4 separate regions of the Homo sapiens genome follow, and all the other regions are reported to be linked to region 2. Evidence: microRNA targets listed by miRTarBase, many of them from high-throughput screens and not tested one by one. Region 2 holds a microRNA gene; each other region holds the end of a gene's coding sequence.
The links. The annotated mature microRNA hsa-miR-6894-5p reads AGGAGGAUGGAGAGCUGGGCCAGA and lies in region 2 at 2,409-2,432, shown strand. An mRNA with a match to its seed (bases 2 to 7 or 8) in the 3' UTR can be bound and repressed. Matches are read on the target gene's strand: a 7mer-m8 pairs with bases 2 to 8, a 7mer-A1 pairs with bases 2 to 7 and ends in A, and an 8mer does both.

Region 1: miRTarBase lists GEMIN4 as a target of hsa-miR-6894-5p. The part of its 3' UTR that is shown has no 7-base or 8-base seed match.
Region 3: miRTarBase lists SMIM7 as a target of hsa-miR-6894-5p. Seed matches in the 3' UTR shown: 7mer-A1 at 496-502.
Region 4: miRTarBase lists METTL1 as a target of hsa-miR-6894-5p. Seed matches in the 3' UTR shown: 7mer-m8 at 3,112-3,118.

Annotation. Positions count from the first base shown.
Region 1 is chr17:741,102-745,101 of GRCh38, reverse strand. GEMIN4 (gem nuclear organelle associated protein 4) reads left to right here. Exons shown (of 2, transcript NM_015721.3): 2 at 1-681. The coding sequence ends at 236. It overlaps TLCD3A (TLC domain containing 3A), which reads right to left. Exons shown (of 5, transcript NM_024792.3): 5 at 2,134-3,801. The coding sequence ends at 3,532. Among named protein-coding and RNA genes, the nearest start is that of GEMIN4, 9.2 kb to the left of the region's middle.
Region 2 is chrX:53,197,199-53,201,348 of GRCh38, reverse strand. MIR6894 (microRNA 6894) reads left to right here and starts at 2,404; the gene lies at 2,404-2,460. It overlaps KDM5C (lysine demethylase 5C), which reads left to right. Exons shown (of 26, transcript NM_004187.5): 15 at 2,191-2,372; 16 at 2,461-2,585; 17 at 2,712-2,859; 18 at 3,473-3,578.
Region 3 is chr19:16,643,690-16,647,689 of GRCh38, reverse strand. SMIM7 (small integral membrane protein 7) reads left to right here. Exons shown (of 5, transcript NM_024104.4): 5 at 429-1,542. The coding sequence ends at 444. Among named protein-coding and RNA genes, the nearest start is that of SMIM7, 14 kb to the left of the region's middle.
Region 4 is chr12:57,765,408-57,769,407 of GRCh38, forward strand. METTL1 (methyltransferase 1, tRNA methylguanosine) reads right to left here. Exons shown (of 6, transcript NM_005371.6): 5 at 3,896-3,997; 6 at 3,064-3,744. The coding sequence ends at 3,589. It overlaps CYP27B1 (cytochrome P450 family 27 subfamily B member 1), which reads right to left and starts at 1,671. Exons shown (of 9, transcript NM_000785.4): 1 at 1,440-1,671; 2 at 600-790; 3 at 1-92. The coding sequence starts at 1,634.

The sequences.
Region 1 (4,000 bases), not on the chromosome of region 2:
AGGTGTTCTGCCATGCTCTGCACATCATGGCCATGCTCCACCCGGAGGTCTGTGAGCCACTCTACGTTTTAGCCTTGGAAACCCTCACCTGCTATGAGACTTTGAGCAAGACCAACCCTTCTGTCAGCTCCTTGCTCCAGAGGGCACACGAGCAGCGCTTCTTAAAGTCCATTGCTGAGGGCATCGGCCCTGAAGAACGGCGCCAAACCCTGTTGCAGAAGATGAGCAGCTTCTGACTTGGCGTGGGGAGCTGGGCCCCAACATGGCGGGTCTGCAGAAGATCAGCAGCTTCTTACCTGTGCGGGAGCGAAAAAGCTGGGCTTCAACATGGCAGGTCTGTAGGGGTCAGACCCGAGCAGCCTGGACTTTACAGTTATGTGAAACTGTCCACAAAAAGTCATGGCAATAATGGTGTAAAGAAAATAGTTTCTTGGGTATTTGTAACGTACAAACTATCATAAAAATTCTCCTCTTTCGCATCTCACTTTGTCTCTTCTAAGTCGGCCTCAGCAATAGCCCAGGATTAAATATGCTCTGAAATTGGGTTTAGTGTCTTCAAGATCAAATCCAGCCAGGAGGAACATGTTCATAACTGGACTTTTCCATCCTAGATTTTGGCAAATAAGCCCAAAGTTGAAACCATGTGAGTGGAAAAAGCATTACATGGTACGTATAACCCCCTTCAAGAGTTATTTCGTCTTTTAATGTTTTTTTCTTGAGGTATCTTGGAAAGGACAGCAGCTTGGAAAAGAATCCAGTCCAGCCCTGGCTCTGCCTCTGGCCATGAGACTGCTGTGCCCGAGAGGCCTGCACAATTCTAAAATGAGAGGATTGGAGGACCAAGATAAACTCAGTGGCGAGGGGCTAGGTTAGTGACCTCAAGAAAATGGGTCCCCTCTGAATTGAGGAGTGTGTACAGTCTTTGTTGCTCAGACTAGCCTTGAACCCCTGGACTCAAGTGATCCTCCCACCTCAGCCTCCTGAGTAGCTGGGACAATAAGCACACCCACTTCCCATACAGTCTTAACTCCATCTATTCAGTCACCCCCAAAGGGGCTACTGTGAAGACGAGACCTGGCAAACCCAGCAGAGATGTGCTGAATGGATGGGTCACGTTAGCTTTTGCCTCAGGAGGGGTTGTCAAGATTTGGATGAATGAATGGTTTGGATAAGGGAATGATGTGTGCAGGAACATAAAAAATGAGTTTGGGCCAGGTGCGGTGACTCACACCTGTAATCTCAGCACTTTGGGAGGCCGAGGCGGGAGGATCACTTGAGACCAGCCAACATATGGAAGCCCTGTCTCTACAAAAAAAAAACCACAAAAATTAGCTAGGTGTGGTGACACACAGCTGTAGTCCCAGCTACTCAGGGTTCTAAAGCAGGAGGCTCACTTGATCCTGGGAGGTAGAGGCTGCAGTAAGCTGAGATCAGACCACTGCACTCCAGCCTTGGTGACAGAGTGAGACCCTGTCTAAAACAAAAAAAAAAAAAATTGAGAGTGGGCTAGGCATGGTGGCTCACACCTGTAATAATCCCAGTGCTTTGGGAGGCTGAGGCAGGAGGATCACTTGAGGCCAGGAGTTTGAGACCAGCCTGGGCAACAGAGATAACCTGTCTCTACAAAAAGAAAAAAAAATGAGTTTAAGGTGTCTGAGGTATGAGGAAACTATGAAAATTGGCTGGGGACATGTTTAATGTGTGAGATGAAAGGGGGAAAAAATATGTCCCATCACTCCCTCCATATCCACACCCTCCTTCACAATGGGGCATTACTCAGGTTCTCCTCAGGTAAAGTAGGCTTGGCTCCCTGACCAATAATCGGTCTTCCACTCTCCCAATTCCTAGTAAGATTCACTTATGAAGAGAAGAAACGGTCTCAAGTTACGTGTGACCACTACGCTTGAACTCTGGGAACCTTCAATGTATTACTGAGACCATGAACCACAAAAATAGGTTTGAGTGAGGTGTGAGCTAGACCTTTCTGGAGGCTGAAAGCATTCACACACACACCCCTCTGCTAGTTACATGGACACAGACCTTGAGCCACAGCACACGGCAGCCAGTCGAGCTAGGTCACAGGATGATTCTTACAGGACACTGATATTGATGTATTTCACAAATGAGAATAAGTTGGGAATGTTAGTGCAATTTAATCACCGTAAGGGTGACTTTTAAAGATACACTGATAGTTAAAAAAAAAAGACAATTAAAAAATAGCATTTTGTTTTTTAAATGGCACCCATTAAAGACTCAACAGTCAAAATGAGACAAATCAGTCCTTTAGACGTTCACAGACAATTGAAAGGCACTTTAAAAATCCACTTTTTAAACTACCACTTGAGAACACATGGTAGCACAGTCTTAAATTCATCCTAGTTGATCGGGAATGATGAATGAGTGTTGGCACCAGAAAATCCTGCTTGCAGAAGGGGGCGCAGGTGTCGGTCCACGGGACAGCCACTGGCCAGGCTAGCTGCCGCCTCACTCCGCAGCCTTCTGTGGCTAAATGGCAGGACGGACACACAGGAATGGGCTTTGGACCACAAGCTCTGGCATATCGGGAGGCAAAGCACTCAAGTACTCTGCAGTCTAGATGACACATTTCATGGTTTGGAGGACAGAAGTAGGTTTCCACATCACATGAAAAGGACAGTGTCACAGTGGGGTTACCCAGTAAACAGCTACCAAAGCCATCATTTCACGCTTCCCTGTAGTTTTATGAGCTCGCCCTCTGCATGTGGATATGGGGAAAGCCGGGCATGAAGGGGTGTGTGAAAAAGAACAGCCTCTGTGACTGACTGCAGTAAGCTCACAAGTTTGTCACTGTCAGACTTAGCAAGTCAGCCTGCAAAGGTTGTGCTGATCTCTTGGCCACACTACCTACTCAGGTTCCCATCCATGCCTCCTGCCTGCCCCCACCCCCAGCCCCACCAGTGAGACTTCTGATTGGAAGTCTATAGACATAAGAATTCAACTCTGACCCATGGATGAGAGGATGAGGCAAAGAACCAATGGGTTATCTAGTAAACGATCAATAACTACCTACCCACAATGATTGTCCCAGGCCAATGTCACAAGACGACATTACTTCCAAGAACCAAGTCATCCCTTGCTTCTGCGGGCCCAGTGCCACGGGTACTGTCCTGAGTGGTTTGGAAGGTGGGTAGCCGCTGATACAGGGACAGGCAGATGTGCAGACACTTACCACCCTGGTCCACCGATCCCACCCCATGCTTCCACCTCCCAGAGCTCTTGAGATAAGACCTTAAGAAGGATCCTTGGGCTTGCATTAAAACCACTTTGCTGTCCGTGGAGGTCTGACAGGACCCAATAGTTGTTACTACAAAAGTGCTTTTGCAAATAGGGCAAGTTAGAAGAAGGAGGTAATATGAATATTCTTTAGAAAAACTCAAATCCATCGGCTTATCAATACCCAAAGTCTGAGGCTACCCAGGGCACAATTTGGTCCATGGAATGCTGAGTGGAGGAGGCAGCTGGTGTGAGGCTGCGCCTGACTCCCAGGAGCATTTAGCCATCCTTTTTGGCTTGGGGAGTGTCAAAGAGCCGGACTGCCTTCCTGCACAGCAGACAGAACCAGTAGATCTGAGGAGCTACGAGGAAGGCATTGGCCACGTTGCAGTAGAATGGGATGCTGAAGGGTACTTGGAGCAGGCTTAGTCCCTGCTGGCGGCCATAGGACCAGTACATGAAGGGGAAGAGAAGGATCCGGCAGGAAAGGAAGGTGGCCAGCGTGAGGATTCCATTCACCTTGTACAGAAGGGTGTGCTGCTGCTTTAGCTGCAATAGAAGAGGAAGGAAAAAGGTAAGGTCACCAAGAAGCTGGGCATCAGGGAGCGACGGGCCCAAGTCCCACCACAGTAAATGCCACACAGGTGCAGGTGCTCATCAAGACCTTGGCTGTCAGATTCCCTGGCGCCCAGACGTTTGTCTAGTTTTCTAACACTTGGAGAAGACATTCTTGAACACTATCATATTG
Region 2 (4,150 bases):
CTGAAAAATGGGATTATGATAATGCTTATCTTTTTGGATAGTTGATTGTATTAAAGATAATGTTTGCTTAGTGACTGACCCATGGCAGGTACTGGTATAGCAGCTATTTATCATTATTTACATGACCTAGCAAAATAGACTGGCATATGAAACCTCACTGCTGATTATCTAGGTGACTGTATCAAGTTACTTGATCTTTCATATCTCACTTTCCTACTCTAAAGTGGGAATAAATACCTAACTTGCAAGATGTAAGGTTAGAGTAAGGTGATTTATATGAAAGCCATCTCTCTAACATTGCCTTTGCAATGTTGCAGCTGCTATTATTGGTAATGTTAATACATGAAGAAACTGATTGAAATTTGGAATGTTTCTCAGGAATTGCCATTTTATTACATGCAGATGGTTTATTAACTCCAGCTAGGGCAATAATATTACCAAGCTGAAGGTGGTCCTGCTTTAATTGATTTCTTGTAAGCTTGTGTCAGTTGTGTGTGTAGCTGAGTGGAAGCTGCTACAGAGCTCTAAAGTCCACTCGTGTAGTTTCAGCCATCATCTTCAAATTTCACACTTGCCCAGTTAGGGAATTGACTTTGTGAGAGTCTTTCATAAGATTACAAAGGAGTGCTGGTTCTGTGGGATCCCTTGCTGCCTATCTAGGGTAATACTTTCTTATTTTAAAGCTCATTTATAGCTTTCCTGTGAGTGTGGGCTATAGGGAGAACTATAGCTACAGTAGTGTTGGAAGTCTGGGGCCTCTCAGTCGTGGTGTAAGTTGTTGAGTCCCTGGGCTTTTCCAGGCATCATTTTCTCACTCTGTTCAGTACTGTTATTAAATGATGGCCGTGTGGCTGTGCCAAGCTGTGGGAAGGAGCCAAAGCAAGGTGGGGAGAATAGACCTTCTCATCTTGACATTCAGAATTCTTCACACTTGGCCCTTACCTCAGAGAAGCATTCTGGACACCATAGTCTTGGAATCCTGTAAGAGATTGTATGTGTATTTAAGTATGTTTCTGGGAAGAGGACTTATAGTTTACATCCAATTCTCAGGAGTCTGTAGTCCAAAAAAACCCTAGAGACTTCATCCTTAGAATATTCTCTGGCTTTAGAGTCAAAATTAACTCAGTTTGGCAAGTTACTGACCCTGAGACTTAGTTTCTGCCTTAGTAAAATGAGATAGGCCTGTGGAATATATATTCTTATCTGAAAATTAGAGCTAATAACAGTAAATATTTGATGAACACTGAATCTAAGTGCTGAGATACTTGTCTGATTCCATAGCTGCTTTATTTTTGTTAATCCTCATAACAACCCAACAAGGATGATACTGTTTATCTCCATCTTACTAGATAATGAAACAGACCCAGAGACGTTAAATGATTTACTCATGATCACACAGCATATAAGTGGCAGAGTGGGATTTGGGCTCATAACTTATGCAGAGATTAGGTGTTAAAGTTGGTATGTAAGACAAAAACTGTTAAGAGTTGACATTTCCCATTAAAATCCCTAAAATTGCCCATTAGATATACACACTGGGTTGTCTCTCGATTACTCCAATATAGCCAGCTTTTCCTTCATTTTTGAAATGGATTGCTTTTTCTTTATCTGAGCAACAGATGAAGTCATTGGATTAGGTTTGGAAACCATATTGTTGGGAGAAAATTATTATATCTCTTTAAACCCTGAACACAAGCACATACGGTTGAATTTCTCTAAGTTATATATGTGCACAAGTATCTCCTGCCTACTAAGTGGCCAGCGTGGTGCCTGGAACACAGTGGGCTCTGAGTAACTGGAAGCCGATATTGTTCCCCAGTACACATAACTAGCCAGGCCTGTCCCTTGGCCACTTGCACTCATTGCCACCTCTCTGGTATCTTGGTCCACCACTTTCCTCACTTCTCACCCACAAGACCCTTTCTGCTGATCTGGATCTTACCTGATTTTTCTTCCTCTATAAAATTATCTGACTCAGCGCACACTGATCTTGCCCTGGTTTATCTGATTCCCCAAGCTTTGAGAGTCTAGACTTTACAAAGGGCAGGTATGCTCCCTGGGGTTTGGCCTCTTAAACCCCATGACCCTCAGCATAGATTTGAATCTAAAGTAGGGGTCGGTGGTGGCTGAGATGGAGGATTTTGCTACCTGGTTCTGGTTATATATAACGCATAGGTTAAATGCCCTTAGGGTATCACAGAGGCTGAGCGAGAGGCTTTCGAGCTGCTCCCAGATGATGAGCGCCAGTGTATCAAGTGCAAGACTACGTGTTTCCTGTCAGCCCTGGCCTGCTACGACTGCCCAGACGGCCTTGTCTGCCTTTCCCACATCAATGATCTCTGCAAGTGCTCCAGTAGCCGGCAGTACCTGCGGTGAGCATGGGCCTTTCTGGAGGAAGTGGGGCAAGAAGGAGGATGGAGAGCTGGGCCAGACATGCTCTTGCCTGCCCTCTTCCTCCAGGTATCGGTATACCTTGGATGAGCTTCCTGCCATGCTGCATAAGCTGAAGGTTCGGGCTGAGTCCTTTGACACCTGGGCCAACAAAGTGCGAGTGGCCCTGGAGGTGGAGGATGGGCGGAAGCGCAGTGAGTGATGGGGGGGATGGAGGGACTCCACAGGCAAGTTCTATTCCCTTTCTTCTGTACTCTGACCCCCTTCCTCTGCCTCTATTCAATACTGCCTACTCTTTGCTGCCCTCATTTTTCTTCCAGGCCTTGAAGAACTGAGGGCACTAGAGTCTGAAGCCCGTGAGCGGAGGTTTCCTAATAGTGAGCTGCTGCAGCAACTAAAGAACTGCCTGAGTGAGGCAGAGGCTTGCGTGTCCCGAGCTCTGGGACTGGTCAGCGGCCAGGAAGCTGGGTATGACAGCGTGAGGAGTTAGGGCACACATAAGGTGCTGAGGATCCAGCACCGAGGAAAAGTGCTGCAAGGGGTAGACTGTGAATACCATTTGGCAGAATGGACATCAGCAGGAAGCTGCCAGGCACAAGAGTGTGAGATGGCCTGGAAGGTGTTGGGGGGGACAAGGAGACCAGGCCACCTAAAAAGGAGAGGAGAGCCTCTGTGATAAGAAAGCTAGAAGTGTTTATTTTTTATCAGTACCTGGAAGTGGCCTGAGAGAGAGGCTGAGGGGTTTTGTGGGCAGGGAAGAGTTGTGGGAGGCTTACGGGTAAGAACAGGACAAAGATGTATAGACCTGATCCCTGCTAACACAGCTTTAGAGTTCACAGTAGAGGATGGATTGCAAAGTGTAGCTCTTATTACAACCCATTAGTTTCTAATTCTTTCCCCTCATAATATGAACATGCTCTATAATTTAAAACCTTCCCTCTAACCTGGGCAATTGGGGCAAATTTGAAATATGCGAGATCAAGGTGGACAGGTGTAGTGAGGAAAGGTGTTCAGTCTTAGCATAGACATGGAGGGAAGGCACTGAGTTTGGACCTGAAACCTCACATGTGATACTTCATAGCCCCCACAGGGTGGCTGGTCTACAGATGACCCTGACTGAGCTCCGGGCCTTTCTGGACCAGATGAACAACCTGCCTTGCGCCATGCACCAGATTGGGGATGTCAAGGTGAGGACGCTTGGAGTGCTGATGAGGGATCAAGGGGACCAGGGGACCTGAGCAGCAGGCCATGCTTGGCTCCTTTCAAAAGCTTAAAGTGTTCAGGCAAGACAGGACACACGTGTGAGAAAAGAACAGGTGGGAGGGGTGAGGCAAGGGTCTAGTGACTTGTCTGTTAGAAATGGGCCTTGAGGGTCAGGTGGCAAGGGTATGGGTATAGGATACAGAGTCCAGGTAAGGTTTCCTGGAGGAGGGGTAGAGGAGAAGGAGGTAACAGGGGTGCTTGTTGGGCTTGGAAAGTGGAGGGAAATTCATGAAGGTGGAGGAGGAGTGAGATGGAGAGGGCAACAGACCCCAGGGTGGTGAGCACAAGGGTTTATGTGAGGACTAATCATAGCAATTTTTAGGGCAGGGAGGTCTCTTGGTGCCCTGAGAACAGAGCCCTCTGAAAAGTTAAATAAAGCATAGATTAATAATTATTAGTTAATTAAGAATCTCTCAGGGTGGGGCCCAGGAATCTGCATTCTTAAATTCCCCAGGGCATTCTAATGAGCAGTCAGTGTTAGGAACCCCAACTGTCT
Region 3 (4,000 bases), not on the chromosome of region 2:
GAGGTCAGGAGTTCGAAACCAGCCCAGCCAACATGGTGAAACCCCATTTCTACTAAAAATACAAAAATTAATCTGGCTTGGTGGCAGGCGCCTGTAATTGCAGCTACTCAGCAGGTTGAGGCAGGAGAATCGCTTGAATCTCGGATGCAGAGGTTGCAGCGAGCTGAGATCGCACCACTGTACTCCAGCCTGGGCGGCAGAGCCAGACTCTGTCTAAAAAAAAAAAAAGAGTATATTCTTCTTTTAACTGTGTAGTTCAGTATTGTTAATTATATTCACAGGTGGATCACAGGTTACTTTAAAAAATCAGACAATCATGTAAAATCATCTAAGTAATAGGTAATAGTCATGTAAAATAATCGCTGACAATATTTTTAGAACAGTCACCTCCTATCCTCACAGACATTTCTGCCCTCTGACTTCTCCAGGCTGTTCGGCTCTTGAATCCCAGCGATGAAACCAGGAACTCACTTTCCCGGGATGCCGAGTCTCCATTCCTCCATTCCTGATGACTTCAAGAATGTTTTTGACCAGAAAACCGACAACCTTCCCAGAAAGTCCAAGCTCGTGGTGGGTGGAAAAGTGTTCGCCGAGGTGTGCATGGTTTCCCAGCCACGTCCCTGTTTTCAAAGATAGTTTCACTTTGGTCTCTGAATTGAAATGCTGTCTACTGAAAGGGTTTCAGGAGCGTTTATGTAAGGGGCTGTGATGAAATTGCATTCCCCATAGATAAAAGAAAAATCATTTCTATCCAGAGATCTGAGCAGAAGGATTGGCTTGTTAGTTTAACACAGCCGTATTTTTGGACATTCAGTGTTACTTGCTGAGTCTGACAGCCTCTGGGCCCGGCCAGGGGCCCTGTTAACAAACTGCTTTCACATCCCAACAGGGTCTGCTTGGCCACTCAGTGCAGCTGCGATTAACCCTAAAGGCTTTAAGGAACGGGCCACCTGTAACAGAGACACCAGCCTTCCTGTATAGACACTAAATTGTTAGCAAGAGTGTTGAGCTAGTTCCTGGTGAAGTGTTTCCACAGAAGACATGTGGAGCAGTTGTGGGGATATTAAGGGAAACTTTCCTCTGCCTTGACCCCTTTGTTAAATAAAATGACTTTGGGAGCCATTCATTGTACAGTTGCAGGAATGAGAGTGATTTTATGATGTGGTACATTGGGACCATGTTCTAAAACCTTGGGTTTCTGAGTCTGCTTTTTGAGTAGGTGATTTTGAGGTTGAAAAACCAGGGGCCTTCATCTAGGAAATACAGCATTTTCCAGAAGCTTCTTTGAAAGGGAATCCTGGTTTTGTTGCCAAAATGAAACGCCCGGGGTTGGCGCTGAATCCCACAACTGTGTGATTTGCTTGTTGAGTTTTTTGTTGTCTGGTTTTTTTGTTTGTTTGTTTATACCAATAAGAATGAGCCTGAATGTTGGTGGTTTTTGAAATCCTGACTTGGAGGTAAACCTGGAGGAAGGAAAAAAAGTAAATATGCAGGCTTTTAGGACTGAGTAGCCTTGAAAATAAACCTCATTTCTAAAAAGGACCTTTTGTTTATACTTTTTTTTTTTTTTTAACCAAGAAGTCAATTTCCAACCTGAGTCCTTTTGAATTTACCCTGCTGGAAAAACCTAGGATTCATTTTGGAGGCCATGAGAAAGAAAAGAGTCAGTGGTAGAGTTTCCTTTTTGGATTTAGCTCAATAAATGATGGTCAAGAATTGGGCAAGTGGGGCTGCGCGCAGTGGCTCATACCTGTAATCCCAGCACTTTGGGAGGCCGAGGTAGGCGGATCACTTGAGGTCAGGAGTTCGAAACTAGCCTGGCCAACATGGTGAAATCGCATCTCTACTAAAAATAGAAAAATTAGCCAGATATGGTGGCACACGCCTATAATCCCAGCTACTCGGGTGGCTGAGGCACAAGAATTGCTTAAATCTGGGAGGCGGAGGTTGCAGTGAGCTGAGATTGAGCCACTGCACTTCAGCCTGGGTGAGACAATGAGATTCTGTCTCAAAAAAAAAAAAAAAAAAAGAATTGAGTAAGTGGAATTTTGACTGGAGCTGCTCCTGAAAGTATTGAAAGAGTCATTGCTAATGGTGGGCTCTTGCTAGACCAGGGTCAAGTCCACTTTTGCTGCCTCTCAGGTTGTGGAATTCTCCTTGATCACTTCTGCAATTCATTTCCTTGCCAAATCTCAGCCAAGCATCACCCCAAGGTCTGTAAGTAGCAGAGATCGGAGCTGCTGGGTCTGGCTTTGCTGAGGCCGGTGTCGCTGTCAGAACAGGCACGCCAAGATCTTGGCTGGGTCCCTCACAGGCCAGATGAATGGTGTGAAGAAACCTTCCTGCCTTATTCAGACTGGCGCGGAGGTCTCAATGAGGCGAGGCATTTGTCCATTATGGGGATGAATCGTGCTCTCAGAAGAGAATCCTGTCATTGAGGTTTTGTTTCAATAGTCCTCTTTTTCTCCAGAGAACTGTTGTCTCATTGTTAATAATAGCAGCGTGGCTTTTTCAGATGCTGGTTGGTGGCTGCTGTACATTTTAAAAATGGAATCTCATGGTTGTGTCTCTTAAGGAAGCTTTTCAAGAACTTTACTGGCACCAGAGGTTATCAGAGTTTGAAGTTTGGGTGCCTAGTGTCTCACAGTGTTTAAGCACTAATGTTCTGGGTCAGTTAGGTGTGAGTACAAATCCCATCTCAGCTCATTCTGAGAGGGACCTTGGCTAATTGCTTTCTCCTCTCCAAGCCTCAGTTTCCACATCTCTAAAATCGGCCTGCAAGTAGTGTGTGCCTAAGGTTGTTGTAAGTTTCAATGAACTCGAATGCGGCTGAGTGCCTGAGAGCACCTGTTGCTGTGGGTATCATCACCGTGTGTGTTTTCTGTCTTCTCATCCACTTTTCTTTGTGCAGTCTGCACACACACCATTAAAGGCTGATGACAGCATTTTTACGAATTGCAAACAGAGGCCAGCGCGGTGGCTCCCAGCACTTTGGGAGGCCGAGGCAGGTGGATCACGAGGTCAGGAGTTCAAGAACAGCCTGGCCAAGATGGTGAAACCCCGTCTCTACTAAAAATGCAAAAATTAGCTGGGTGTGGTGGCATGCCCCCTGTAATCCCAGCTACTCAGGAGGCTGAGGCAGAGAATTGCTTAAAAACCCAGGAGGTGGAGGTTGCAGTGAGCTGAGATCGTGCCAGTGCACTCCAGCCTGGGTGACAGAGCAAGATCTTCTGTCTCGGAAAAAAAAAAAAAAGTTACAAACAGACTGAGTGCAGTGAGAGGCTCACACCCTGCAATCCCAGCATTTTGGGAGGCCAAAGTGGGCAGGTCACCTGTGGTCAGGAGTTCGAGACCAACCTGGCCAACATGACAAAACCCCGTCTCTACTAAAAAATACAAAAATTAGCCAGGTGTGGTGGCGTGCGCCTGTAATCCCAGCTACTCAGGAGGCTGAGGCAGGATAATCACTTGAACCAGGGAGGCGGAGGTTGCAGCGAGCCGAGATCGCGCCATTGCACTCCAGCCTAGGCGACGAGCAAAACATCTCAAAAAAAAAAAAAAAAAAAAAAAACGCAAACAATTTCCAGCCTGGTAAACCTTTTCCTGTCTTCACCATCCCCATGCAGCATTTTCCATATTCCTGTATGTATGTTTTGAGAGTGGATAAGGAAGGATGAGTTCTGCTGTGTTCATTTCAGCATCATTTTCTTTACACTTGCTTTGTTGCTAGGAGGTGTTACAGTTCTCATTTTTACTTACGGTGCAGTGTCAGTAAATAGGTCCTTAGCCACCTTGTTGCTGGACTTGGATTATATTTTGTCCACTGTGATCAGGGCTGCCCCTGGCACCAGTGTTGTGATCTTCATTGGCTTCTATTGTGGCATTAGCTTCCTTGGGCAGATAACCATGGAGGGGTCCATAATATCCTTAAATACCATTGGTGTGGCTTTAAGTGGCTTTTGTTTGTTTTACTTTGCTTGAAAAAATTTTTTAGGCCTGG
Region 4 (4,000 bases), not on the chromosome of region 2:
TGTTCAGGGTTCCGGCGTAGCGGGCGGCCGCTTGAGGCCGGAGGAGGAGCGGGGCCAGGAGACTGCGGAGCCTTTGCCATTCTTCGCCTTCCCTGCAGGGTTGAGGAGAGAGTGCGCATCGGGAAGGTGGGGACGGCTCGACGGGACTGGCTGCAGTGAAGGAGCGCGTTCGGCTGCGGTGGCCAGGAGAGGGATTGCGTCTGCCCCCTTGGGGTACGGAAACCTGCACCGGCCTGCGCCTGTCTTCCAGCCCCCTTCCTCTTTACTCATTTCCTGCCCTCAGGGGCCGGGGTTCCCGGGTAACTTGAGTCACAGAACCTTACATTCATTCCATCCAGATCCTTGTACCCTAGCCCAATTCCTCCGGTTCCCCCAGTTCCCAGGATTCGGGCCTCAAAGGATAAGGAGGTAGGCGGGGAGTGAGGTTGGGGCTCAACCTGAGTGTGGGTGAAGCAGACTGGGATGGGAACCCCAAGATGCCCAATGGTAGAGTGGGACAGCCGACCTCCCACCATGCCCCCAGATTGATAGTTTCGGGACCCGCAGCAGGAGAGGGCCGCTGCAGGGCGTCTGGGCTTCTGGGGGCAGAGAAGACTCACGCAGTGAGCAGTCCGCAAGCCCGCTGGCGGCAGCGGCGGTGCTCCGTCCAGGGCGAGAAGCTGCAGCGCTCGGGCCGGGGTCCCTCCTGTCGCAGCAGCTCCTCGACGAGTGCAGGGGCAGCCACGTACACGGTGCGCACTGTCCCAAAGCTGGCTAGCCACACCGGCCCGAAGTGCGCGGCGCCCTGCACCTGGGGGAGCGGACACAGCGGACACTTGGATACCTGGGCGGGGACTTTCAGCTTGACCTGTGCCCACGCCAAGGGCGTTGACTGGGCTTGGGAATAGGGAGCTTCTGCTCTTTCTCGGGTGCCCAACTAGTGTATGCCTTTGATACTGCAAACTCCTCCTCTCTCATTTCCCATCCCTAGAAAGTTTGAGTGTGATGGGCAAAACCGGAACTTTGTGCAAGGCAGACATTCAGGACCTCTCTGATCATCTCGGTCGAGGAGAAATCTCTAAAAGTTCCATGTCTGGACTGTCCATCTCAGGACGAGTCCTCAGTGAATGAAAAGGAACCCATGTAGCTTTAAGCCGCAAGCAGGCGGAGGGTACTGCCCACTCCGGCCTCCCCCTCCCGCGCACTTGTACTTTATCTGCAGGATCTCCACACCTCAGGACAGCGAGAAGGCGCTTTCGCAGCGCCCTCTGCTAAGAGTCGGGACGGGCTCTGCCCGAGTGTAGCCACACCGCCCCCAGCCTCAACTCGCCTTTTCCTTATTTCATGGGCATCCGTTCTCTCTGGCTGTCCCACATTTGCTCTGCACTAGTCAGTCCTTTCTGACGCTGTCAAAACCAGTTTCCCCAGCACTCTGTCTCGGGAAAGGCGTCCCTTCCTACCTGCAGCTCGTGTAGCCTCGACAGCCCCCCCTTGCAGAAAAGTTCGGCCAGAAAGCTGGGCGTAGAGGGGCCTGGGATGTCTGCCAAGCTCCGGCGTGCTGAGTGGTACTCTCGGTAGCCTAGGGAGGCGCCCAACTCGGGCGCCCAGCGGACGCGATGGAACACTCTGGAGGCGTACTTGAGGGTCTGGGTCATGGTCTGGTTCAGGGTGCTCGCGAAAGAAAGCGCTTCTCCTGAGCATCATATCTCAACCCCTATTTAACCTTTGGGTGAGGTGATGACGCCCCCTCTCCAAGCTCCTCAGCCAATCCCTCCTCCTGAGTGGTCTGTGCTGGGGATTAGCACCCAGGAACAGTAGGCGGGGCTGGGGCTGACTTCACAACTCCCTTGGGTCTCATGTTGCAATGACCCTCATGGGAGGGAGGGCCTAAGATTTTCCTCCTGGGAGAGTGCCTTTGTCTAGGAGCCTCAAAGTCTCATCCTAGGAAAGGCTATAAGGCTTTTTAGTAGGGACTAGGTGACCAAGCTACACTAGTCAGTCTCTGATATTCCCACTTCTACCAGTGAGCCCAGCCCCTTTAGGCCCATCCTCAGGAATTCCCCATCTTTCAGCTCCTCCAGGAAGGGAAGCAGGGGAGGCACAGCTGTAACTGTCCCCACATTCTTGGCTTAGTGGGTTGTATCTTCTCTGCATTATTTTCCTGCACTAGCCACACCTCCCCCTCCTCCTGTACCTAACATATACTGGGCAGATGGCAGGTGGGTTAATGGGCTAAAATGGCTCCTAGAACCTCCATCTTTCTTTCTTGAGGATAAGGGGGTCTCTTGGGTATACAAGCCCCCTCCTTCCAGACATGGGAATTTGGGGCTTGAGAAGCAGAAATGAAACTTTTTGTACATTAGTTAAGTTCAGAGATTGTCTGTGGGGTGTTAGAGGAGCTAAATGGATGTGGATGTTCTAATTCCCCAGCTGACTCGGTCTCCTCTGGGGGGCTTTCTGGTTAGCAGCTCCTTTCTACTTTTAGCCTCAGAATCCTGTGGTGGCTCATGCCTATAATCCCAGCACTTTGGGAGGCTGAGGCAGGAGGATGGCATGAGGCCAGGAGGTTGAGACAAGCTTGAGCAACATAGCAAGACTGTCTCTACAGAAGAAGTTTAAAAATTAGGCTGGGCACGGCAGCTCATGACTGTAATCCCAACACTTTGGGAGGCTAAGGTGGGCAGACTGCTTGAGCTCAGGAGTCTGAGACCAGCCTGGGCAACATAGTGGAACTGTCTCTACAAAAAATACAAAAATTAGCCAGGCATGGTGGCGTATGCCTGTAGTGCCTTGAGAGGCTGAGGTGGATTACATGAGCCCGGGAGGTCAAGGCTGCAGTGAGTTATGATTGTACCACTGCACTCCAGCCTAGGCAACAGAGAGAGGGCCTGTCTCTAAAAAAAATTAAAATAAAAGAATCTCCCACAGTTTACCTCTCTGCTCCTTACTCCCTCATTCCCCACTGCAACTCTATCAGGCTCTGTGCCAGTCAGCTAGCTCTGAAGTTCTGGAATTGAAGGTCAATGTGAAAAAGGAGAGGGTCTCCACCCCCACACCTTCCCAAGGACTCTCCAGAGACAACACTTAGGGAACACAGATTCCCCAGGTCAAGTCTTACGCAGGGAGAGGACAGGAGGATGGTAGAAGGCATATGATACATACTCCACCCTTTCCTGAGAAATGGCAGAATAGGCATGTGTACACATATACATGTTATCCCAGGATCCACAAAGCAAACAGAAGTGGTAATTGAGCCTAGCAAGCAGTTTAGATGGACTACATTCCTCATTCCAGCTGAGGAGAGATCTCACAAGGAGAAAGGAGTGCTAAGGAAGAGCAAGACCCCACAGCCTTCCAAAGATCCCCTATGGTCCAAAGTCCTTTGACCATCTCAGTCAGCTGCTTTGTTTTCTGTTGGCAGTGGAGGGACAAGGTGAGAGGAGCCAGGGGTAGTCATGAACACCAGTGGGTTCTGCCCTGGGCAGCTCCCCACCTTCTTTAAGAGAGTACTGTGTCTCAGCTCCAGCAGTCTCAACTGGGAAGACCCAGGACTCCTGCTCTTTTCTCTAATCCCTGGGAGACGAGGTCCAGCTAAGGTAGAGTAAGCAGTCAGTGACCAGGCAGGCTGGTTTGGGAGGTCACTGCCTGGAGGACGGGATCTTGTATTCTTCGGAAGATGGCTGGGAAATTCTTCCCTCCATTACGTAGAACTTTCTTCCCCTCCTCAGTTGAGGTGCCTAGATGTCCCACAACGGGGTCTTCACTCTGGGAGAAGGAAGGGTCCAATAAGTCCTTGCCCACTGTTCAGACTGCCCCTGGCCCTTAGACACCTATCCCATCCTCCTGGCACTGAGTTAAGTCCAAATACAGAACCACTCTGGAAAGGGCCTCCACCTCCTCTAGGTCCCCTACTCACCAGGTCCTCCAGAGGCACACGCTCAAACAGTGGGTGCTCTTCGAAATGAGTGCACATCCAGTCGTGTAGCTCCAGCACATCGGTTATGGTATACACCAGCCCCTG